4 linked regions of the Homo sapiens genome follow. The protein of the gene in region 3 purifies or fractionates together with the protein of the main gene of each other region. This does not show direct contact. Each region holds a gene or a part of one and is shown on either strand. Other genes may lie near its edges.

Region 1 (7,192 bases), on a different chromosome or scaffold from region 3:
CATTTCCATCATCAGAATTCCTCATATTGCCCTTCTACAGTCACACCCACTTCCCCCTTGCCACCACCTCCACTTTAACCCTTAGCAACCATGGATCCTTCTATATTTTTTAAATTTTAAGAATGTTATATAAATGGCATTTGACAAGATGCAACCTTTGGGATTGGCTTCTTTCCCTCAGCGTAATTCTCAGAAGATTCATCAAGGTTGCTACATGTATCTTTTTTTTTGTTGCTCAGTAGTATCCCATGGTATAGATGTACCATGTTTATTTAACCATTCACCCACTGAAGGATATCTGGATTGTTTCCAGATTTGGGTTATGATGAATAAAGCTGCATATACACTCACAAGGTTTTTTTTATGAGCACAAGTCTTCATTTGTCTAGGACCAATGCTCTGGAGTGCAATTGCTGTGTCATATGGTAGTTGCATATTCAGTTTTTTAAAGAAACTGCCCAATTGTTTTCAGAAAGGCTGTATCACTGTACATGTTACCACCAACATATAAGTGATCCAGTTTCTGTACATCCTCACCAGCGTTTGGTGGTGTCACCGTTTTTGATCTCTCCTTTTATGTTATTGGAATAACTACCTTAAGTCTCTCCCTTCTCCAATCTATCATCTTCAGTGCTGAGTTCAGTTTTAGACATGTGCCTTAAGTGATTTGAGGGATAGATATTGGTAGAAATGTATAGGCATTTGGATATATTTAGTTTAAGGGAAGAGATCTTACAACTAGTTTTGTAAGCTATCTTTGTTTAGTTGATGGTTAAAGTTATGTAAGTGGATGAAATTACTGAAAAATGGGTGGATGAGAAAGAGAAGATGGCTGAGGACAGAGTCCTGAGAAGCGTCGAAGACTTGGGCGATTGAGTAATCAAAGGGTTAGGAATGTATTCTGTAAGAGAAAACAAGAAAAGAGATAATTTAAAAATAGTATGAAATATGATACCGGATATTAGAGGCTGGGTGTGGTGGCTCACACCTGTAATCCTAATTTGGGAGGCTGAGGCTGCCAGATTGCTTGTGCCTAGCAGTTTGAGACCAGCCTGAGCAATGTGGTAAAACCCTGTCTCTACTAAAAATAAAGCTGGGCGTGGTGGCATGTGCCTGTAGTCCCGGCTACTTGGGAGGCTGAAGTGGGAGAATTACCTGAGCCCAGGAGGTCGAGGCTGCAGTGAGCAGTGATCATGCCTCTGCACTACAACCTAGGCAATGGAAGTGAGACGCCCTCCCCCAATCTCTCAATCTCTCTCTCTCTCTATACATACACACACACACACACACACACACACACACACACACGCGCGCGCGCGCGCGCGCGAGAGAGAGAAAATTTAAGTTGAGAACTAAAAATGTCTCTTGCAGTTGGTATACCCCCTAAAGAGGTCGGTGTTCATCTTTGCTTGGCAGTTTTAGTGGGAAATGAGGGGGAGAAGCCTGGGGATAGGTGGTTGAAGCATGAATGGGAAGTAAGCTGACACAGTGAATGAAGACCATTCTTTGGAATGAAGTGGAAAAGAATGAGCAATAATTAGCATTACTGAAGATTATTTTTTTGCTGGGGGAAATGTTTTTAGGCTGAGGTTGAATCAGTGGAGGAAAAGAGGCTGAAAAAGTACGAAAAAAACTTACACATTGTCAACAATGAGCACATTATAATGACTAAAATTTATTTTAATGAAAAAATGTATTTAAGAGAGGAGAGATTTATGGAACAGGGTCCTGGAGGAGATGGGAGAGAATGGGGTTCAGACTGCAGAGGAGATGAAGAGGGATAAGCGGAGATGAATTTGTTGTTGAGTTGAGCCTGAGGGTTTTGCTCATCTTTGCAGGGTTTGGTGAGAAGGCGTAGGGAGCTTGAGAAGAGTCCTGAGAGTTGAAACGCCACTGAGGGAATGGAAGATGTTGCTGATTAAAGGCAAGGAATAGGAATAGGATGGTTGCATCTGATTAAAGAATACATCTGATATCAGTTTGCACAGTGGGTCAAGGCTAGAGTTAAGAAGCTGAATTGGGGGTTTAATAGCAGAGAATGATGTGTAGTGAGTAATGGATAGACTAAGAACTGAAGTAGTGATTGAATTGGAAAACAAGCTTAGAATTTTTGAGGAAGAGAGAAATGGAAGAATTAGTTCTAATTATAAAAGAGGATATTGGAGTTAAGATTTTCAGAGATAAAAAATTTTTTAGACATTCATGATGTCCAAGAGAGTGGTTTAGTGAAATAGTGTTCATAAGACTCTGGAGTGCTAAGTTTATATTTTATTTTGAAATTGATGAGAAATCAAGGAAGAGACATAGTAATATTAACTTTTCAGAAACTTTCTTCTGATGATAGTGTGAATAATGGATTAAAGAGGGGCAATACTGGAAGCAATTAGACATGTTAAATTCACTGTGAAGCACTTTTGCATCCAACTGAGGGGGAAGCTTTCAAGCCACCAAGTTTTCAGCCACATGTTTTCTACTCTCTCAATTGAACTCAGTTAATTGACCCAATCTATCTTAATTATCTGCTCCTGAAAAGATCACAGCCCCTCAGCTGTGTTTTGCCCACATCATCATCTTTATTAAATGTAATTAGAACCCTCTCTTCTGGGTTAACCTCAGGAAGAACCAGCTCCTTGATATTTTCATGCCATTGAAATTGTGGCGCCAGATATGGCCACAGTGGATAGAAACAGTATAACTTTTCTGCTTACCTTTCACTACATTTTTGAGAAGGTCTGAAAATTTTTCATAAAACTCTCAGGGATGTAGTTTTCAGTTTCTGTGACCTTTGTCTTTCTGAAATGGGAGAGGTTCCCTTGTCCCCCTCACAGGGCGTGCATTGGGGGTGTGGCTCGCTTCTTCAGTGCCCCGCTGCTCAGACCTCTAGAGAAGCATACAGACCGGCAGGCTGTGGGGCTCCGACCCCTTGACAGAGTCTGGGGGTGAATGTTTACAGCTCCTGAAGCCCCAGTGGGTGTGTGTTACAGGATGCTCTTTCAGTTTGCCTTTAGGGGGCTTGTGTTAACCAGCTCAATTAGACCCTCTACCTTGTCGCACAGACAGCGAGCTTTCTGTATCCTGGGTTCTTGCCTTGGTGTACCAGAAGAATTGGATCACACGTGGGCTTGGAGAATGAGTGCAAAGTTTTATTGAGTGGAAGTAGCCCTCAGCAGATGAGGGACCCAGAAGGGAAATGGTTTTCCTCTGGAGTTAGGCCGCTTGGCGGCCCGGGCTCTTTTCCGACTGCCCAGGCCAACCTCCGCATCGTTCTGCCCGTGAATGGCCTGCGGATGTGCCAGCGAGCTCCTCTTCTTCCACCCTTATGCTCCTCTGGACGTCTGGCTGCCTGTGTACCTGCCTGCTAGGGTCTGGGGTTTTCATAGGCACAGTATGGGGGAGTGGCAGGCCAGGGTGGTCTTGGGAAATGCAACATTTGGGCTGGAAGGCAGGAGTGTCAGTCCTCACCTAGGTCGGTGGGCGTGGAGCCCTAGCAAGGGACCACACACTCCTCTACCCAGCACTTCACTTCGCCCATCCCTATCATTTAAAGGGACCACGCTCTTCCCTTCCCAGCACTCCCCTATCATTTCTACACTGTAAATTTTTTTTGTTTATATTTGTCTCATCTATCAGGTTGTGAATTCCTTCACATTAACTTGCATGGAATTCATCTTGTTATAATGTGGTACCTAAAAATCCTAGTACTCTGGTTCAAAAATATATGTTTAACAAATGTTCAGTGAAAGCGAATGAATGAATGAACGATGACTCCCACACACGGAGGAACCCTGTCCTCCTGTAAGGTACATGATTTGAAGGTCCCAACAAGTCTATCTTGGAACAGGCCCAGTTGCGATGCCCATACAGTTCTCGGACTAACAAAAAGTGTCACACCATCCAGATATGCTTAATTTGGAAGCAGCTGTAAGCAGACTCCCGGCCAGCTCAAGTTTCCTCACCTGGGAAGAGGCGGGAGGCTGTTTACCGTACGGAAGCATAGCGGCCGCCTGCCTGAGTTCGGGAGCGCGGGTTCCTTTCCGGGAAAGAAGCCTAGGCCGTTTTCCGTACAGCAGCATGGCGGCCGCCGACGGGAGGCGGTCATAGCATCACGCCCGGGGGAAGAGGCCGCCGTAAAGGAAGCTCTGCTTCCTCTTCTTCCTTCTCCCGCCTCCCACCGGCTGTCGTAAAACGGTGAATGGAGAGCGAGTTGTGGGGGGGAAAAAGGGAGGACAGGGGGCGCGGAGTCAGAGTGGCGCAGCAAGTGGCCGCAGGTGGCGACGGTGGCGGGGGGTGGGGTGTGAGGTAATCCAGGGGTCGCGGAAGAGGAGGCTGAGAGGGTCAAAAGAAAACTAAAGCTGCAGTCCGGCCTACTGTTCCGGGGGCCGCGGAGCCCCCACCCGGGGAGATGGACCTCAACCGGATCATCCAGGCGCTGAAGGGCACCATCGACCCGAAGTTGCGGATTGCAGCCGAGAACGAGCTCAACCAGGTGAGGAGAGGGTCTTCGGCGACCCTCTTCCGCCGAAGGGGCGCCCCTGCCGGCTGGCCGGGCTCCCTCTCCCCGGCGCCCCTCGTCCTCACCCCCACCGGGCTGGGGCTGACGCCTCACGGCTGGTCCCGCTCTCCGACCCCGCTGCCCCCCGGTCCAGTGGAGCAGGGCTCCCAGGATCTTTGCCGAACAGCTCGCGCACCTGTTGGCCACCTTTGCACCTTTTCGTGTCGTCTCCCTTCTCCAGGGCAGTTTGTTCTGCCTACTTGGTCCGCAAGAAGCAGTTTTTGCAACCTGTGCTAGTGTTTTCAGGGTGTGATTTATTTTCCTTAAGTGCGCGGACTTGGGGAGCAGGTGGGAATTTTACTTACAGTTCAAATCTGAGTTCAGCTTTTTTCCAAACCCAGCCCTTTTTAGGTGTTGCTGTGGAGCACGCTGCCCACCGCCTCCTCCTGTCGGGTTGGCAGGACTGTTTTGACACCGATTGGCCGAGTTTTGCGGAGCGCTGGGCAGTGCTGTTGGGAGAGTGCTCTGGGAAGAATAGGCAGTTTTCATGGTGATACTGCTTTATCTAAGACACATCAAAGTAAGATGTGTTGGAGAAATTTCTTATGAATGCTAAAATGTGTAAGACTTCTTTCTTTTCTCCGTCTCCTGTTCTTCCTAATTAGCCTTGACGTCTTTCCAGCGTTACCCCCACACTTCAAAATTTTAATGATCCCAAACTCCAGCTTATTTCTTCTTCCCTACCGGTACTTAAGAATCACAGACCTCTTACTAAAAAGTAGGGATTAAGAGCTACCACTGGGATGGAGCAACAGCTGTTTTAGGTTGTGATGACTTGTAAAATGTAAATATTCCAAAATCAGCTGTTCTCAAAGCGTTGCCCAGGACCTGGAGCTTCAGCATCACCTGAGAACTTACAAATTATGCAAATTACGGGGCTTCAGTCCAGACTTAACGAATCAGAAACTGTGGGGGTGGGACCAGTTGTATTTTAACTAGCTCCCCCAGGTGATTCTGTGCCTCCCGAAGTGTGACTGAAGTGTGACTGTCCTAAGTAAATGTTTCTGTTGGAATTGACTTTAAAAAGCTGCGTGTTGGGAATCTTTGAAAGGGATTATTTTAATAGGAAACCTAGGTGGAGTTTGGAGTAGGTATAAATGCAGGATTCCCCAGAGATAAAAGGGAGAGTGAAGACACTGCCAATGGAGAGGAGGTTGGGTTGAACTAATGCCCAAAGATAATGCACTGGTGCCTGAAAAAGAAATGGACTGTCACTTAGAATAGGGGGAAGTTAAAGTCAGTACCTGTCCCAGGCTTTGCAGAGTAAAAGTACTGTATGTTGGCTGGCTGGAAGAATAGTAATCCAGGGGTTAGTTAGGAAGAACAAAGCAGGAGCTGAATTTGCAGTCTACTAATATGAACAGGGGAGTTGGCCTGTTTATGACCCCCTTCTCACAATGAGGCCAGGTGTTCCTTTGATATCAGGTTACACTTCCCTGCCCTTCACCTAACCTTCATTTCTTTCTGATTCATCAGTATATAAGTACAGTTGATGTTATAGAAGTGGAAAAAGTATATGAGAAAGCCTGCAGAACTAGGAGACATTTAAGACCCAATCCTATTTTTTTTCCCATGGTATTTCAGACAAAAGCAGGCACGTTCAGGGTGGTATGGCCGTAGACTCTTGATGGTAGTTCAATCCAAATCCATTCCATCATCACTCTGCCCTGCCCCATAGTGTCCCACCTCATCACAGACCGTGGTTTCCCCAGCAATTTCTAAAGGTAGCTTATTGCTATACCACTCATTTAGCATTTATAATTTATATAAAGCATAGTGAAATGCTTTAAGGTTTTTTGAATTGGCTGTAAATAGAACAAAATATAATGTCACCTAACAGTGTAGTAAAACATGCTTATGATGATGGGTTTTGCCTGCTTGTCCTTTGCCACCACTGTAACATCCGACTTTGTTGGATAAATGAGTGGGTAAATCACCATAAGTGGTTATGGTCCACCTCTTCGACTTTAGTCTAGGTCTCCCCTCAGCAAGTATGTTCTGCATAGGGAATGGGAGCAGCTTCTGCGGTATACTGATGGATCTGTCAATTGCCGTTTAGAAAAATAAGCAGCTTCTGCACCACAGCCTATATTCCAATGGATAAATTCTCATTTGGAGCTATATATTTTTTTCAGGCCAGCATTTTTCTGTTACTAGTGAGTAGTTTTCTGACTGCTATTTGTGATATTGTTTCTGTGGGAAAATGTATTTGTAGTTTTATCTCAGGATATTGAGCGAACCCTATACATCTTCCTCATTTTCTATAGACCAGAAGTCCCATTAGAGGCAGCATAGAGGAATAGGAATGGGTAGGTACCTTGCTTAAGTAATTCATCCAGAAAGGTGTCCTCTTTTAATAAATTATCCTTCACATGGCCTCGGTAGGGAAATAAGTTTTTACTTTGATTGCCAAGCTTTTGAATCTCTGCTTTCCATGCATGTGTACATGCAATTTTCATTACCCTTTATTAAGATAATTTGTTTATGTAAATAGCACAGAAATATTTATTAAGTTACTATGTTGCAGATATTGGTATAAGAGTTTGTTTCCATGGAGCTGGGGATACAGGCAAGTAACTAATATAATTTCAGGTCATAAGTGCTGTGGAGAGTAAAGCCCGAGCAAGAGTGTTGGGATGT
Region 2 (3,424 bases), on a different chromosome or scaffold from region 3:
TAATTTTCATGAGTCTCCACAGACTTTGTGCTATAGCAATAATAGAGGTACTTCATTATAACACATTTTTCATATACTGTCCTCAAATACATTGAACTAAAATTTGCCTTCTTTTAACTTGCTTGAAATTTCCTTATTTTCCCTTACTCATTATTAGTGCTTACAAAATAAATTAAGTTTTAATCTTGCTTGGGTTCCTTTTTCTGTGGCAGTGATAACTGGTACCAAGATGGCTAGAACAAGTAGGAGATACATGTGTTGAAAGGATTGTTGTGTTGAAGACAAAGGATTTAGTTAGCCTAGAAACTAGATTAAAAACAAAAAGCAACTGATAATAAATCCTGATAATGAATTATACTATCTTCAAGGACAGAGAAAAGTGACAGTTTCAGCTAGGACGAACAGGAGGTGTCAGACTGCTGAAGCCGACTCTGAAAGGTATGTCATGCATGTCTAGAATATATGGAGGCCTATCTTCACTTTTTATTTCTACAAGTAGAAAAAAACTAATTTTCTTGCGAATGAGAGAGAATATATAACAAGATAGTGAAAACTATAAATAGCTGTCTTAGGTATATAGTCTAAAATTCCATCATCAAGAGCATTTGACTTCTTACGGCGTGTTTGCTTTTGCCTATTAGCTGGCATGGTCTTTAGTACTATCTTTAATATGTTGTTTCAATTTTTAATTACATGATGTGACTCCTCTTTGATCTTCAGTTAGCAAACTCTTGATTTTGATAATATTTGGGTTCTCTACACTTACATACTGATAGAATAATTCTGTCTATAATTTGGGTATATTGTGTGGTAGAGTGTTTTATTTTTGGCTTCTGTCAGTCAAGCCACTGTTAGAGCTGAAAGTTGGTAGCTGTCTTGTATTCATTTGCAAAATTGTATTGTGTGTATTTTCAGTACATAGTTTTACACTGTTGATTAAATTTGTCTTTTTTGGGGGGAAACTTGTTTTTTACTATGTTTTTGGAATTTATTGCTTAAATCAAGAGAGAGAACTTAATTTTTTTGTCACTTCTTGAGTTTCAAAGAAATCTCTTTTGGACAGTTATGGTCCTCGTTTAATTACAAGCTTCATTACAAGTTTGTGGCTTTTTTTCCTGTATAACACCAGGTTCTGTTATAGTATATAAAATCATTAGCTAGATTTTCCCTGATTCACTTTGCTAGATAGCCAAGTCAGTGTTTTTTTGACATTGAGATTTTAGTTTTAAGCTAAGTCAATGGAATCAGGCTATCAATTAAACACTGATAGAATGTGAGTCAGAAACAAAAAAGTTTTATTTATAAATAAACTGGTTTTAAAGCTTGTATCTAAATTCGTGTATTTTCAACATCTATTTAGTGATCATGAAGTTCCAGAACCAGAATCAGAAATGAAGATGAGACTACCAAGACGAGCCAAAACCGCAGCACTAGAAAAAAGTAAACTTAACCTTGCCCAATTTCTCAATGAAGATCTAAGTTAGGAAAGACGATGGAGGTGGAATCCTTTAAGATTATGTCCAGTTATTTGCTTTAATAAAGAAGAAGTTACCCTTGTCAAAATCAGAACAAACCTGATGTCTTTCTGAAGATTTTCTGCTGTGCGCTTCCACGTTACTTTGGCCTGTATTAAAGCAGTAGAGCAGCATCAGTTATTATAGTCCAGAAAAAGTGTGCATCAGTCAGTCACACAGATTTATCACAATCTGAGGTGGGCCTAGGAATCTCATTTTTAAATAGTCTCTCCAAGTGATTCTTATGAACTCTTTATGTTTAAAATCATGTCATTATGGAAAACTTACAAGTGTAACTAGCTAGTAGCTTGCATTTGAGAAGCTTATGACTTAGATGGGCAGAATCAACAAAGATGAAACCGCCTGAGGACACATTTAACAAGTAACATTTCTAGGGAAAATGAAGGAAGTACCACAAACTGGCTAGAAAGGAGCTTATCAATCACCAGTGAGGAAGACCAGTATAACGTTCAACAACAGTTATTTTGACAAAAACTTATTTTGTGATTCCTACAGTGAAAACATTTTTGGTGATATCTGCCTGGGAAATCTCTCTTCCTAAAGTATTTGTATATGGGAGTCCTTGTTTGTGAATGTTTCCTGGATTAGGGAGGTGTCAACATAAATGTATTATTAACCATGAAGCTGCTCGCTATATTTTTGGCATAACAAAATAATATTTATTTACTGTGGATAATAATTCTAGTGGGAATATAATGTGACAGGAACTTCTCTTTATATACGCTACCAATTTATGAGCACTATTCACTGTCAATTTCATTTCTTGTCTTTTGAAATTGACACTTGGCCTGACTTACGAAACTTGTACTATATGAAATTGGTCCTCTTTTCTGCAATACCCAACGAAACACCTTTTCTCTTTATTATTCAGAAATGTCCTAACATGGATCTGTTTGTTTTAATAATTGTGCTTTTTTTAGGCTTATCATCTACTAGAGGCCATTTACTTAAGGTGAAATTTTAAGATGGAGCTAAAGTAAGATCACTGGTTTTTAGAACCAAATTGCTATACATATGTGCCTCATAGAACTTATAAAAGGAGTCAAAGTTTCAAAGCAAGATAGTTATTAAGCAAAAGGAAAAATGGTAATGATAGAAAGTCAGTTAAAAATAGATGATTGTTCTTCATTCTGTTTGTTGGCTCTGTGTTCTCCTGTGCTTCAGATTCCTTATGTGTTGTTGTTTTAAAGACAATTTGCAGGGGGTTGGGAGAAGGACTGAAAAGGTACATTAAGTGTGCTGTAAGGAAAAGTCTTAGAAACATAATAAGCTAAAATCCCATTCACACATGGCCAGGCTATCCAAAAAGAAAGGAGCCATGTTCTCATGTGGTTTACCATACCAAAGCTTGCTTTCTCTGGCATGGGAAAAATAAATTTAAGCACCAAACCTTTAGTATTCTGAGTATTCAGTTTTTAGACATAGTCATGTAGCCATTGCTGAAACTGTGCTTTGCACTATTAAAGGTAGGGAATGTCCTGCTTTTAAAAGTCATCCCTTTAACTTTAAAATAAAAGGCTAAGGTACAATAAAACAGATGTAAATCCATTTACCATTTTTCATTCAAAACTGGTAACTTACAGAAACCACATAGTATTTTTCTCTATCAAGAGGCACAGATTTGCTGAACAGTAAACATGCAATTGTGCCATTGCTCTTAAAGCCCACAGACTTAGATTTAAAATACAGAGAAAGAACTGATAAGCTCACATTTTCCTGTGAATGGGAAACATGCTACTTGACAAAAAGCTATGATCAACTTTTTTTCTTCTGTACATATATAACGTTGAAGGAGATTTACTTCTAAGAGATACCTTTGCCTTTTCTTTCACCAATTTGCTTCGAGGTAGTTGGTATCCACCTGTTTTACAACTGCTCATGGGTCAGGT
Region 3 (7,597 bases):
ATATTCTTTAAAGCATATAAATAGAATAATCAATTAAAAAAAAGAGTCTCAAATAGATTCAACTCTTATGAGGAACTTAATAAAACACAGTAAGCTTTTCAACACCAAGGAGTTAAAAAGAACTATTTAATACATTTGGTTGAGATACCAGTTAGAAAGGAAAAAAGAGAGAGGGGGAAGTTAAAGCCAATGTGAGATGATTCATCAAAATAAACAACAGAAGGACTAATGAGTTAAAACAAAACACTCAACTATGAAAAAGTCAAAGTGGCAGGGAGTCAACTACTTAAGAAAACATGAACAAATGTATTTTTAGCTTTAATATTAGGGAAAATTTTTTAAAGATTATCACTTTACTATAGAGAAATGCAAAATGTTCAAGTAAAAAAAGAAGCAAAACTGTTAAAATATTTACATCAAAATTTTGATCAATTATCAATATGTCTAATTAGGAAGAGCTTATCCAAAATTATAAAAACATGGGACAGACAAGTGGAGACAGTTATAAATAAAAATTAGCAAAAGATAAAATTATAAATAATCAAAATATGCAGAAAGTTTATTCATATTAGTAAACAAGCAACACATCAAAATAAATGTGAGATATTGTTTTACAACTACTAAACTAGTCAAAATACACTTTAAAAATAACATGCAAGCAAGAATGTGGAGAACCGGTACACCACATTTTTGATTGCATGTATAACTCATTTTGAAAACAATATGGCAGTCGGAAGCAAGGGTGATGAAGATGTTTCTTCTCCCTAGCTCAGATATTCCACTATATGAATTTTATATTGAATATATAATTTCACAGAAATAAAAGAGTTCTGTGCAAAACTTTTGCATGTTGTATTATAGCAAAGAGAATGGAAATAACCATTTAAAACAATTGTTAGATAAATTAATACAGATATATGAAAAATACTTAGAAATAGGAAAAATCCTTATTGTATAAGTCAAAACAAAAAATATTATAGTATATATTCCGTATTATTTTCAATTATGTAGGAAATATAGACTATAAAATGCAGACGATAAAAATAATTGATGTGTTAAAATAATAAAAATGTGCATGTTTCCTAATTTAAAAATGTTTAAGCCCAGTTATTCCTGATAACTAGTATAAAGATACAATAACCAGATACCAAAAATTATGGTTTTATAAAATAAGAAACAATTTTTTATGAATAAAGCATATAGTCAAAAAATAAGTTTATAGTCAGGGTACCTCATGCGTGTGTGTGTGTGTGTGTGTGTGTGTGTGTGTGTGTGTGTGTGTGATAGAAGGGTCCCTGGTCTATCTCTCACTACATTTCTTATGCAATTCTCTTCAGAAGTGAAAATATACATAAATTATTGCATGTATTCTGTGGACTTCATAGCGTCACTGTGAAGGTTAAACGAAATAGTATGTTTGAAAATGCCTATTCTGGTCTATAGCTGTACGATACGTTCCAGGTGCTCAAAAAATATTCTTTCAATATATTTAATAAAAGGACAATAATATTAAGAATTTGTTATATTATAACTTTAATAAATGTATACAAAGATTCTTTTTTTCACCTTCAAATGAAAGAACTAGAATCGATCATTTTGGTAGGCCCCACCAACTCTGTAAAGTTCCGTGGAATGAGCAGAACATGAAGAAAGTCAGAAATCAGTAAAGGACGATTATAAGAAGACGATAAATGCATGGATCCCCTGGAAAAGCGTACCTTAAAGAGAAGCTTTAAAATCTGTGTGTGTGTCTGTGCGTGTGTGTGTGTGTGTGTGTAAAATAACCTTTTTAACAAATAAACAAAATTAAAGTACAACATACAGGGCCTTTCATTACAACCTTCACCTGGTTTCACAACATGTAATGTACATTCAGAAAACAGATGTCTTTAACTTTCTATGACCCAGGTAGTAAGCAAAGTCTAATTCTAACATGTAATGCTTTTTTTTATTTTTCTGGAGTGATGAATAATGCTTCTCACATGGGAGGGCATTATCTACCTGAGGAAACACATATGGCCCTTTTATCTCCTCTATGCTTAATGCACAGATAAATACTTACACACGCACAGAGAAATGCTTCCAGTCACACGATCTGCTCATTGGAGGAAAAAGCACACCCATGCAGCCTGTTACATTTGCCAGCGCTGGGGCTTTGCTCTAAAGCAATGTCTGCTTTGGATGGCAAATTTCATAGTCTCTATTTAATAGGTTCATAGAGGGGATACTCACCTCCAGCTCCCCCAGACTGGATGTTATTCTCTAATCCCTGACTCCTAAAAGTGTCTGTGCCCAAAACATACCTGTTTCTTCTGGACCCTGAACGGCACGCTTATTTCTGCTGTTCTGACTGGAGTTGCCTTCTCCTGGAGCTGGTGGTTCAAAGATCTATGAACAGAAAAACTTCAAGTTATTAGAAAGACAGCTGAGGCGAGGGAGAGGCAGCAGTGTAGGCAGGATCTTGCCTGCGTCTTGCAGCTGCTGCAAACTCACTTTCAGTCCCGCGGTGACAGCTGGAGCTTCCTCCAGGCCGGCCTTGGGGGCTCCTGCTCCTGCTGGCAGCTTCTCCGCGTGGTGGCCCTGCAGCTCTGCCCGGAGGCTGGCCAGGTCCCCTTGCAGGGCGGCCACCTGGTAGAAAGACACCACCGTGAGGCAGCAAGACAGCAGTGCCAGCAGCAAGGTTGCAGCCAGCAGCTTTCCGTCTTTGGAGGATCGGACAGAGGGGCTTTCCTTCCGTGGGAGGATGGAAACACACTCCTTCAGTTTCATTTCTTCTCTTTTCTTAAGGCAAGAAGTAAGGCGTGACTGCTCCCTTTCTGTGGAGTCATCCATATCACTACTTGAACTTTGAAGGTTGGGGCCTTTAGAATAAGTGACCACAGGGAATGGATCATTTCCTGTTATCTGTGTTTGTTGATGTCCTGCGTGCACTACATGGCAGGGCTTGGCTCACCCCTCAGGAGAGTTATCCTGAATTTTCTCCTTTCTGCCTTTCTGCATCTCTACCCCTACTGTACAGTAGGTTTGCTGGCATTTACCCTCCGATTGGATTGCTCAATCTGTCTTCCTCATTTCACTTTCAGTTTTTGTAAGAATTTCAAAGTCTTCTCATAACACTCATGCTCAAGTAGATTTAAAACCCCTTAAATCTGCTGAGGAAACTTGGAGTTTGGATTGGCACAGTCAAGGGAAAGCTTTTAAGATATGCTCAGGTCTGAGAAGCCCACCCTTAAGTGTAGCAAGGGAACTCTGTCTGCTTGGGACCACATGGCTTCATAAGGAAGGGGGAAAAGCAGCTGAAAGTTCCTGCTGCTGTCATAAAAATAATTAATGTGAAGGTCAGATAAGCTAAGTGTTTTAGCATTGAATTGTTCTTAGCTAGAGAGTGATTTATTAACAGTCTTCAATTATGAAATAAAATGGAGAATCCTTGAAGGAAGTGTGGAAGTAAGTCCACTGGGAATTATTCATATTATTATACTAATAATGTCATAAAAAGAATGAGAGTAAATGTTACAGACGTATTTAGGTTAGATATCTGAAGGATTCTCTAAATATAAGTGAATATATTTTTAAGGAAAACATGCATAAACTTTTTCCTTCTGGGACTCATCACTGAAACTCAATCATGCATATGAACAGCCTGTCCCAAGGAGCCTGGTCTCAGCTTTTCTGCTCAGACTTCTGAGGCTTTAAGTCCCCGCTCAATATGATACTAGTTGAGGAGAATCAGCCTTGCCTCCAGCTCCAAATGCCTGACTGCTACCATTAACCACTCTCAAGTAGCTTGTCTACAACTCCCATGTTGACTGTGCCACAGCCTAACAGGTCGGTGTACAAGAGGTCCTTGATCACACAAGAGCCACCTTAGCTTTGGATTTTTCTGTTGTTGACTTGGTGGACCTGTGAGGACTGTTGCATTCATTCTAGTCCTGCCTTATCCTGATGGCTGGTTCCTGGACATTCCCCAGTTTTTCACTGCTTTGCCCCAGCATTGAAATATTGATTCATCTTTCAACAAACGTTACTGAGCACTTACCAAGCCCTGGGTAGTCACTACTCCCCTGTGGACTAAGAATAGTGAGCTTTAGTTCTGTCTCACTCTACATTTCCACACAGTCTTAAGTAAGAAGTTTACAGAAATGATATAGTGCAAAGTGGAGAACTCCAGACCCAGGCTTCTAGACTGCAAATCCTGCCTCACCCTCGCTCTCCTTATGCAAAGTACATAATCTCTCTGTGATTCCATTTCCTCACCTGTGAATTCGTATGACGATATTAACTGTCCCTGGGATACATAATGAGGCTTACAAGAATGTGGAAACAAATTACATTTTGGATGCTTCCATTTAAAAAAAAATTATTTCCACAGGTTTTTGGGGAATAGGTGGTATTTGATTACATGGTTAAGTTATTTAGTGGTGATTTGTGAGATTTTGGTGCACCCATCACCCGAGCAGTGTACACATTGAACCCATTTTTTAGTCTTTTATTCCTCACCCCCCTCCCACCCTTTCCCCTGAGTCCCTAAAGTCCATTAGATCATTCCTATGTCTTTGCATCTTTGTAATTTAGCTCCCACTGTGAGTTAGAACATACAATGTTTGGTTTTCCATTCCTGAGTTACTTCACTTAGAATAATTGTCTCCAATCCCATCCAGGCTGATGCGAACATCATTAATTCATTCCTTTTTATGGGTGAGTAGTATTCCATCATATATATGTATCATAGTTTCTTTATCCACTCATTGATTGACGGGCATTTGGGCTGGTTCTATATTTTTGCAGTTGTGAATTGTGCTGCCATAAACATGTGTGTGCAAGTATGTTTTTCGTATAACAACTTCTTTTCCTCTGGGTAGATACCCAGTAGTGGGATTGCTGGATCAAATGGTAGTTCTACTTTTAGTTCTTTAAGGAATCTCCACACTGTTTTCCATGGTGGTTGTACTAAATGATCAGGGAAATGTAAATCAAAAGCACGGTGCAATGCTTCCATTTTTTCATTCACTTTTATTCTTTACATTCAAAGTATGAATGAAACATTTTTCAGTTACAAACAGTGCTCTAATAGATATTTTCTACAACTGTGCTTGTAACGTCTGCAAGGGTTTCCCAGCAAATGCCTGCTGAGGGAGAAGCACATCTTCACTTTTACAGGCACCACCCAGTTACCCTCTGACGAGTTCCCATTTCCTCATTGTCTTACTACAAAATGACGCAGTCAGACTTACTTGTTTTTACCATTAGGATTGTTTTTTGTTTTTTGTTTTTTTCCCTTTGCATCTGCAAGTTTCCAAGACCTTTTAAAAATAACTTGTTATTATCCTGGCCCCCAAAATAAGCTGCTCTCTAATTTTTCTTACCTATAACTCCCACAATAAGGTGACCGTGCCCCAGTCTAACAGGTACGTAGACAAGAGGTCCTCCATCAACCTTCTCAGGTGGAAGTCTTCTTTTAGAAGGATGTTTGTAAACCCTTTTGCATCAGGAATGACAGTCCAATTCTTTTCTGTCAGTTCTTGTTCCAGAACAATTAGGGTGAGTCATACGGAGTAACCTTGCCATAAAAAATGGAATTCGTATGGGAATTGTATGAAGGCCTTCTTACTGAAAGTCATTGAGATCCTTTAGATGATGTGTTTGTGTATTCTTATGATTTAAATACATGCAGAAATGAAAGGATGCAACGCAGTGCTAGAAAGCAATTTCTCTCTGCGTTTCACTCAGGGTTTCCTGTAGCCACTGCTTCTCTCCATCCATGGACATTCTCCCTCTTCTGGTGAGTCGTTCCCCTCTATATCCCTCAGAGAAAATTCTGAAGACAGGGAATGATTTGACTGCTTTAGGGAATTCCCTCTGCCTTCGTCACTGTGTTGGGCAGAGACTTTCATGCCTGAACATCTCAAAAGAGAGTCACTGGCCAGCCTGCACGCAGCCATTTTTAAACCAGTGCCGATGTTTGTTGCGGCAGTGAGCCGTGCCATGCATAAAATGGGCAAGTTCTTCTTCCACAAAGGGCAGCCATCATGTCCCTCTGGCTAGAGGGACAGCAAGCAGGGATGGCAATGTGCACATCCTCCACAGGGATCTGACAGCTGCATTTTCTCTAAAGACAGGTAGAAAACGAAGTGACATTCATGACTCTTGAATCTCTTATTAGATGAACAAAAGGAAGTCATTACTCCATAAATCAAGAATCTGTTTCCGGAAGAGGAAATGGTTTGGCAATAATTTAACAGAAATTCTGTTAAACAAGAAGCATGTTCACGTTCATTGAATAATACACCACATCACAAGTTTATTCAGGGACAAAAGGCCACTGTATCTGAGCCACAGATTGTGCAGCGATCTTATTATACATTCAGTGTTTATTGACAGTATTTAGCTGCTTTTTACACACATCTTTTTCTCAATGTAAGTGTAAAGCATTCTTCTGTCATTCAATAAACAAACTGAGATACTAGGACTTTGTGACTGACGAAACTGTTCTATCCACTCAGAAATAGGCAGATAGGATTCAAAAGAATATAACTTGTGAGTTTGTCCGGGAGTCAGAAACAGCAGAAAATAAACATTCACTCTCTGACTATGTTCTTACATTGACAACCTCAAAAATATTTTTAAAAATGAATTATAAATTTCTGGCTAAATAGTGCTATAAAGAATTACAGGTTTGAGGAATCTCTCCTTTGCCCTTTTTCTTTGAGGAAAAGCGTGTTTTCCTCAAAATCCTTTGAGGAAAAGGATTTAGACCAGTCAAGCATGGCGACAACAGCTCTTCTAGATCTGTGAATGTACTCGATCTGTAAATGTACCTAAAATTACATCTAGATAAAATTGGTATCCTAAAGCACTCAGAATATGGAAGATTTATGATATAGGTTAAGTATTGCATTTCAGGAAAATATGCTGTTTTCCAGTAGAAATATTATATATATATAAAATATTTATATATTATATATTTTATATATATATTATATATAATGGAGAGAGAGAGAGTATGTGTGTTAAGTTATTATATAGTTAAATTTGATTTGAAAGGCTAAATGTTAATCACTGTATATAATTTTTAATTTAAAAAATTTTTAATTGACACATATATATTTATGAGATACAGTGTCATGTTTTGATATATGTATACAATGTGTAATGATCAAATTAGGAAAATTAGCATATCCATCACCTTAGACATTTATCATTTCTATCTGGTGAGAACTTTGAAAATCCTGTCTTCTAGCTCTATTGAAATATATAATATATTATTGTTAACTATAGCCGCCCTACTGTACAATGGAACACTGGAAATCGTTCTTCCTATCTAACCCTGACTTTGTACCAGGTGACAAACCTCCACCCCAATACCTCCGGTAACCACTCTCCTACTCTCTACTTCAATAAAATCAACTTTGTAAGATTGCATATATAAGTGAGATTACACAGTATTTGTCTCTCTGTGCCTAGCTTATTTCACTTAATATAATGTCGTCCAGGCTCATCCAGGTGGCTACAAATGACAGGATTTTACTTTTTATGGCTGAATAGTAGGCCACTGTATTATACCACATTTTTAAAATTCATTCATCTATTGATGGGC
Region 4 (7,037 bases), on a different chromosome or scaffold from region 3:
CTCTTTTTTACTGACAAAATCCACCATTGCTTGAAAACCATTCTAAACTCAGCCTGCTGCTTAAGACCTCTACTCTCTGAACCTAACTCATCTTTCCAGCATAAAATCTGGATAGCCAGGTAACCCTTCTGATTTAGCCAGACCTTTCTACTCCCTGTCTCATGCTGTCTCCGTGCCTCCCTTTGTGTGCCTTCTGTCCCCTCTCAGTATTTGCATCTGTTAATTCACAGTGGTACTTTTCCTTCCACACCTTCCCAAGTAAGTAAGTAAGCTTTCAGTAGTCATTGCTGTTAGTAAACTGCCAAGAACAATAGATAAAGACTAAAGGAGAGGCCTTTATATACTGTGCAGTGTACTGTGCTTTATTGCCAATTAAATTGCCATGTGCTATGCATATCATGGATTAGTAAATATCTGTTCAATAATTATAATTATGAAAAACTGCTGTTTACTGAATACCTGGTCTTACTACTATGAGGTATACTTTCAAAGAACTAAATCTTGGGTGAAGATATGTGTTCAGGGTCACACAGCTAGGAAAGAATGGAGCTGAGATTTCAGCCTAGGCCTGACTTCAGTATAACCACTGTACTGTATTTCCTCTCTTTCAGATTATAAAATGGAGAATTCCATAGTGTATTTTTACAAATTGAATGTTGAATTAGAATTCTTATTTAAGTAGAATGTTCTCTCTGAATTAGGGCCTGATTAACCGTTTTTTCCTTGATTCCTTATATTAATATAAGATTTGATGATTATGCTATTTTTATACTGAGTTTTTCTGTCTTAAATATATTTACTCACTACTAGTATATAAAGAAATAAGCTTATGTCAGGAATGGCACCTTTTAGGAATTAGTCATATTGTTGTATTATATCCGCTGGCCACCGTCTGCTGCCACAGTGATTCTCAGCCTTGGCTGCATGTTAGAATCACCTGGGACAGGGACTCTCAAACTTAAGCATGTCCCCGCATCACTAATTGCCGAGCCTCCCTCCAGAGTTTCTAGTCCAGTAGGTCCAGGATTCCTAATATGTTCCCAGGTGATGCTGGTGCTCTGGTGCATTGCCACACTCTGAGAAGCTTTACCCTAGGGAACTTTTGAAAATCTTGGTCAGGCCATACCCTAGATGAGTTAAAGCAGAATCTCCAAGTGTGAGACTCTGGGCAGCTTTTAAAGTTCCCCAGGTGATTCCAGTGAACAGCCAAGAAAAACTTGATCTTTGATTGGAAGTTCAGTTATTCCCTCTTTAGTTTATAAGGGAAATGTATGTGGTTTTTTTCTGCCCCTACTCACTCTTAATCTTTTCCCAACATTTGACCACCCACTTTTTATTGAAATTCCATTTCTATAGCTCCTGTGTCACCTCACTGTCGTCTCTGACCTCTTCAGTCACTCGTCTCTCACCTTTCATTGGCTTTTTTCTTTCTTCCTTTTTTATACTGTCCCGAATATGGACTTTTTCTAAGGTGTAGGCCCTGATCCTTTGTTCTCATTATATTCATTTTCCTAGTGAACTTATGTGTTCTTTACACCTTTAAGTTGCAACTCTGCCTGTAGGAGCAAAGCCTCGACTTCCCTTCTGATAACTGATGTCACATCTCCAACTTTGTTCAGGCATTCTCTGCTTGCACGCTCTACAGTTGTCCCTTGGTATACATGGGGGATGGTTGCAAGACATTCCCCCATACTGAAATCCACACATACTCAATTTAGCAGTCAGCTCTGTGGAACCTGTGTGTATGAAAAGTCAGCTCTGCATATTGTGCAGGTTTTGCATCTTGAGGACACTGTATTTTCAGTCCAAGTTTGGTTAGAAAAAATCCACCTATGAGTGGACCCACACATTCAAACCTGTGTTCAAGGGTCAGCTGTACTCTCTAACCCTGAATTCTGTATGTCCTCAGTGATTTATGGTCACACTTATCTAATCATAAAAGTCACCTGGTATATGCTGGGTAAACAATAGCTTTCCAGGCTCTACCCTGGAAATTATGATTCAGTAGATCTGAGATGAGATTTGGAAATCTGTATTTTTAACAAGCTCCCTGAGTGATTCTTATGTTCCAGCAAGGTTGGAAACACTGTACCATCTGAACTCATTGTAGCCTTTTATGCACTTTCTTTTTTAGTTTTCCTGTCAACGGGACCAATATCACTGATGGGGAAATGAGGCAACTTGAAAGCTAGGAGTCAAGTTCAACTGCTTTCTCCTTTATCCTCACACTGGATTATTTTGCTTTCACCTTGAGAGTCTTCCTCAGCTTCATCCTTTTCCATGCCTGAGGGCCCTCCTCCTCTTGCATCTTGATAACTGAGGTGCAGTTTGGAATAGTGGTTAAATGCTCAAGCTCTGGAGCTCTGCCGTGTTCTAGTTGGAGATCTTAAGATCTTAGGCAAGTAGCTTAACTTCTCTGTGCCTTAGTTTCCTCATCTGAAAAAATGGGGATACTATTAGTACCTATCACCTAAGTTATTATATGAAATTATACACAGAAAATGCTTAGAGTAATGCCTGGCCACCGTGAGTGGTAATAAACTGTTATTACATATTAATTAACTATTACTGAGATAGATTCTTAAGTTCTTTTCAACTTCTTTTCCCTATACACTAGTCTCCCCTTATCCTTGGGGGTTGCATTCCAAGGCCCCCAATGCCTAAAACCGAGGATAGTACTGAACCCTATTTATAATATGCACAAATTTCCTTTTCCTTCTTCACAGTTTCATGGATAGATTTGTTCTTAGAGATCCTAAGCAACCTCAGCATACATTTTTGTTTGTTTTTCTTATGAAGTCAAGAACTTTTACCTTTTCATGTAAAGAAAGCACTTAATGGCGGCTCCTTGGCATATCCAAATTGCCAGCATCACTACTCTTGTGCTTTGGGGTCATTATTAAGTAAAATAAGGGTGACATGAACACAAGCCCTGTGAGATATCCCGATGGTCGATCTGATAGCCAAGATGGCTACTAAGTAACTAATGGGCAGGCAGCACATACAGTGTGGATATGTTGAACAAAAGAATGATTCACATCCTGGGTGAGACGGTGCAAGATTTCATCGTGCTGCTCAGAAAGGCATGCAATTTAAAACATGAATTGTTTATTTCTAGAATTTTCTATTTAGTACTTTTATACCAAGGTTGACCATGGGTAACTGAAACCATGGATAAAGAGGGACTACACTAATACATTATGCATTTCGCCACCAGAGTAATCTTCCTAAGATACTGTTTCAGTATGTTGTCTCCCCTCCTTGAGCATCTTCATGATTCCAAATAACTTCCCAGATTAAGTCTAATTCTTCAGCACGGCATTCAGAGCCCTTAATCTCAGTCCTTTATACCTGCAGTATTTACCTCATGCTGTTCACCCACTTTGTGCCACAACCAGAGTACTTTATTGTCTACAGTATTCGCCATGTACATGATTCCCTTCCTGCCTTTGCTGATACTTTCCCCTTATTTGAATGTCTGTCTTTTTGTTTGCATATCTCATTCCTATCAATCATTTAAAACTCATTTTATCGATAGAAGTTCTTCTCGCATAGCTCCTGCCTTTGCCCTTTCTTGTTCTTACGTTTTTCATCCCTTCTCAAATACTGTAAGCTTGTCAAGGTTAGGGTACAGGCAGTATATGTATTTCTTTATCCTGCCTCCCCTCCGCCTTGCCCCAAAACTTGGCTCAGCGAAAGTTTTTGTTCAAGTTGATATTTTTGTTTACGTCTTTCGTCTCAGAGCCATTGTGACTTGTAAAATTTGATTTGGCAGGAAATCTGTGTGGGAATTTTAGGTAATATGGCCTGTTTCCAGGAGATATGTGTGTCCATCAGCAGTGATAAAAATCTTGGGTAAGTCTTACTATATAATTATGTTTTTTAATATATTCATTTATATCCTTAAGGAAATTCTAATACATAGGAAAAGTAGCAAATCTGAAAGACAGTCCTTTCTTTGTCTTGATGAACACTCTGTGGGAACTTCATTGTGTGTTGATGATAGCTAGGGGCTTCTTCAGGAGATACTGAAATGATTCAGGATTTAAGCCTGTTTTCTTCAGTAGCAAAGGAACCTGAATTGTCAGCTGGTGGCAATAAGCCAGATAGGGGAAGAACCAGTGGGCCAAAACTTGGAGATGGGGCAGCCAACTGGAATCCAAAACAGTTTAGGGGCAGGGAATCCAATGACTCAGCTGGAGTCTACAGAAACTAGATTTGTTGAATAATGTCATCCTGAGAGCTCTGACTTAGAGTGTAAGACTTGCCAACAACTGGAAGATAAAGGGTTGCCTCTCTGATGAAAAGACTTTCAGATATCTGCTTCGAGGCTCGTTCTCTTCTCCATGTGTAAAGTTCTGGGCAGAAGGTGTTTTAATGGAGGAAACCCCAGTGGTTACTGTGTTCGGAGAACACCCCGAAATTATATGCTGAATTTTGTGAGTGTATTAGTTTTCTAGGCAAAGGGTTCATGGCTTTTAATCAGAATCTCAAAGAAATTTGTACCCAAAATAGGTTAAGAAAACTGTTCTAGGCAGTTTTTGTCAGAGCTGGGGCCATGAGGGTTTTATCACAGGATTCAAGTACCTGGGTTTCTCAGAAAGAGAGAACTCCTAGTTGTGGAGGGACTTTAAGATCCTAGTTCAGAGTATTTATTCCTCAGTAATTTACCATCATCCATGGAACAAATGACTTAAGATTATGTTTGGTCTCTAATGTTCTCTATCAAAAATCCAAAAATGAGAAATGTTAACAAATGTTATAAATTCAGTTAAATGCTTGTCTTAATATTAGTGTGGTGCAATTTATATTGCTGATGGGATATAAATTTGTTGAACCACTTTAGTTGGGCATTATCTGGTCACGTTGGAACATATGCATGTGCTGTGACCAGCTCATAGTGGGCATATATGGTAAGAGAAACTGTGCACGTGTGCATCAGGATAACTCTTAACAAATATTGTAGGAGGATTGCTTGAAATAGCCCCAAATTGGAATCAACAGAAATGTCCATCAACAGTAGTCTGGAAAAATAAATTGTGTTATTTTCACACAATGGAGTGCTCTGCAGCAGTCTGTCAAAGAATAACAGCTAAAGAAACAACATGGGTAGATCTTACATGTATAATTTTCAGCAAATAAATGAAGACTCAATAAGTATAATTTATTTCATATGTTGTCTCCCCTCCTTGACTGTCTTCATGAATCCAAATAACCTCCCAGATTATGTCTATTTATTCAGCATGTCCTCTTAATCCTTTTACCTGCAGTATAAAGCAACACCAAAATATATAAAATAATAAAACTATAGTGCAAAGTAAGGAAATGATTGCTGGAAAAATCAGAATGGTCATCATTTCTAGGTGGGAAAGAGAATTGTGATTTGGAATGGACACATGGTGACTACAAAGATGCAGCTCTGTTCTGTTTCTTGGAAACACGAGTGTTTGCTTTATAATTATTTATTAACTATAGATTTGTATCTTTTGAGCTTTTCTGAATATATGCTGTATTTCACAATAAAGATGTTCAAAAAATTAAATGAAAACTCTGATATTTTAAATGCGAGAAGTGAGGCATATCGGTTAACTTCTTTGTTTTTGTAGGCAGGTGTTATTGCACTGTTTGTATGATTCAGACCCACCTACTCTGCTGGAAACAAGCAGGTATGCTTTTCCTTTTATGAATTCTATAAGGTTACTCATAAGAGTAGATAAGAAAAAAAAGTTAATTTTTTATTTTCGAATTTCCTTTACTGTTTTTTTTTTTTTTTTGAAAAGTAGAAATTCAACCCACGTTTACCATGTAGGTTGTTGCTTACTTGCCTTTCCCAGGCAGAAGTGGCCAGTGTTTGGGTTGAAAGGATCCAGGAACATCCAGCTATTTATGATAGCATTTGCTTCATTATGTCAAGTTCAACAAATGGTAAGTCATCATGTACTCTAGAAAAAAAATGTTTTAAATTGTATCTAATTTTTAGGAAACCATGTAACTATTTCTAGAAGTCACCTTTTTAAAAAAAGCCTTGAGTGCAAGGTAATGAAGTTTGTTTGAGACAGAATCTTGCTCTGTCACCCAGGTTGGAGTGCAGTAGTGTGATCATAGCCTACTACAGCCTCAAACTCCTGATCTCAAGGTATCCTTCTGTTAATCTCCCCAATAGCTGGGACTATAGTCATGCACCGCCATGCTCAGCTCATTTTAAAATTTTTTGTAGAGACGGGGTCTCGCTTTCTTGCCCAGGCTGGTCTCCAACTCGTGTGTTCAAGCAGTCATCCAGCCTTGGGCTCCCAAAAGTGTTGGGAGTATAGGTGTAAGCCACCATGTCCAGCTTTTTGTTTGTTTTTTTGAGAAAGTTTTTTGATTGAAGATACAAAATTTCTTAAACTCCTGGGACACTGATAAATTCCTCATTTAAAAATGAGGAAAGATAAGCAAATTTAAACATAAAAGATAAGTAAATCACCCTTTAGAATAAGTACTGCTTTGGCAAGATTTGGTTTTCTTAGAATAGCTTTAGGAATTTTGCTTAACCCTATTGCTTTTAGCAGTTTGTTTTTCATTTCAATATCTGTTTTATTCTCTGCAGTTGACTTGCTGGTGAAGGTGGGGGAGGTTGTGGACAAGCTCTTTGATTTGGATGAGAAACTAATGTTAGAATGGGTCAGAAATGGGGCTGCTCAGCCTCTGGACCAACCCCAGGAAGAGTCTGAAGAGCAGCCAGTGTTTCGGCTTGTGCCCTGTATACTTGAAGCTGCCAAACAAGTACGGTAGGTGAGCTCTTTTGTGTAAAATGTTCTGGGAAAATGCAATTGCTAGAAGTATTCTCAGATATAAAAGTCTTCTTATATTCCTTACAACAGAATAAAGTACATAGTCACTCCTTGTTACGTTAATTCACTACTACTATTTGTGATGCAACCTGTATAGTGGTTACAAAGTTCCTGTTATATTATCATTTAGCTATAGGCTGTTACTCAACATTAACTGTGGTTTCTGTCTTACCATATTTTATGTAATTTAAATCAAAGAGAAAA

The links.
Region 1: the proteins of TNFSF13B (region 3) and IPO8 purify together in Homo sapiens (affinity purification with mass spectrometry; 4 studies listed by BioGRID and IntAct, with this or other methods). This does not show direct contact.
Region 2: the proteins of TNFSF13B (region 3) and NCAPG purify together in Homo sapiens (affinity purification with mass spectrometry; 4 studies listed by BioGRID and IntAct, with this or other methods). This does not show direct contact.
Region 4: the proteins of TNFSF13B (region 3) and SAAL1 purify together in Homo sapiens (affinity purification with mass spectrometry; 4 studies listed by BioGRID and IntAct, with this or other methods). This does not show direct contact.

What each region holds. Positions count from the first base shown.
Region 1 is NC_000012.12:30,692,858-30,700,049, reverse strand, and holds the start of IPO8 (importin-8), read left to right. Parts: upstream 1-4,180; 5' UTR 4,181-4,402; coding exon 4,403-4,486; intron 4,487-4,722; exon of another isoform or gene 4,723-5,039; coding exon of another isoform or gene 5,040-5,072; intron 5,073-7,192. UniProt on the Homo sapiens protein: Involved in nuclear protein import, either by acting as autonomous nuclear transport receptor or as an adapter-like protein in association with the importin-beta subunit KPNB1.
Region 2 is NC_000004.12:17,841,942-17,845,365, forward strand, and holds the end of NCAPG (condensin complex subunit 3), read left to right. Parts: exon of another isoform or gene 1-368; coding exon 369-438; exon of another isoform or gene 439-1,360; coding exon 1,361-1,484; 3' UTR 1,485-2,924; downstream 2,925-3,424. UniProt on the Homo sapiens protein: Regulatory subunit of the condensin complex, a complex required for conversion of interphase chromatin into mitotic-like condense chromosomes.
Region 3 is NC_000013.11:108,265,131-108,272,727, reverse strand, and holds the start of TNFSF13B (tumor necrosis factor ligand superfamily member 13B), read right to left. Parts: upstream 3,011-7,597; 5' UTR 2,833-3,010; coding exon 2,494-2,832; intron 2,389-2,493; coding exon 2,304-2,388; intron 1-2,303. UniProt on the Homo sapiens protein: Cytokine that binds to TNFRSF13B/TACI and TNFRSF17/BCMA. TNFSF13/APRIL binds to the same 2 receptors. Together, they form a 2 ligands -2 receptors pathway involved in the stimulation of B- and T-cell function and the regulation of humoral immunity.
Region 4 is NC_000011.10:18,089,063-18,096,099, reverse strand, and holds part of SAAL1 (protein SAAL1), read left to right. Parts: intron 1-3,775; coding exon 3,776-3,855; intron 3,856-5,606; coding exon 5,607-5,666; intron 5,667-5,809; coding exon 5,810-5,925; intron 5,926-6,589; coding exon 6,590-6,770; intron 6,771-7,037. UniProt on the Homo sapiens protein: Plays a role in promoting the proliferation of synovial fibroblasts in response to pro-inflammatory stimuli.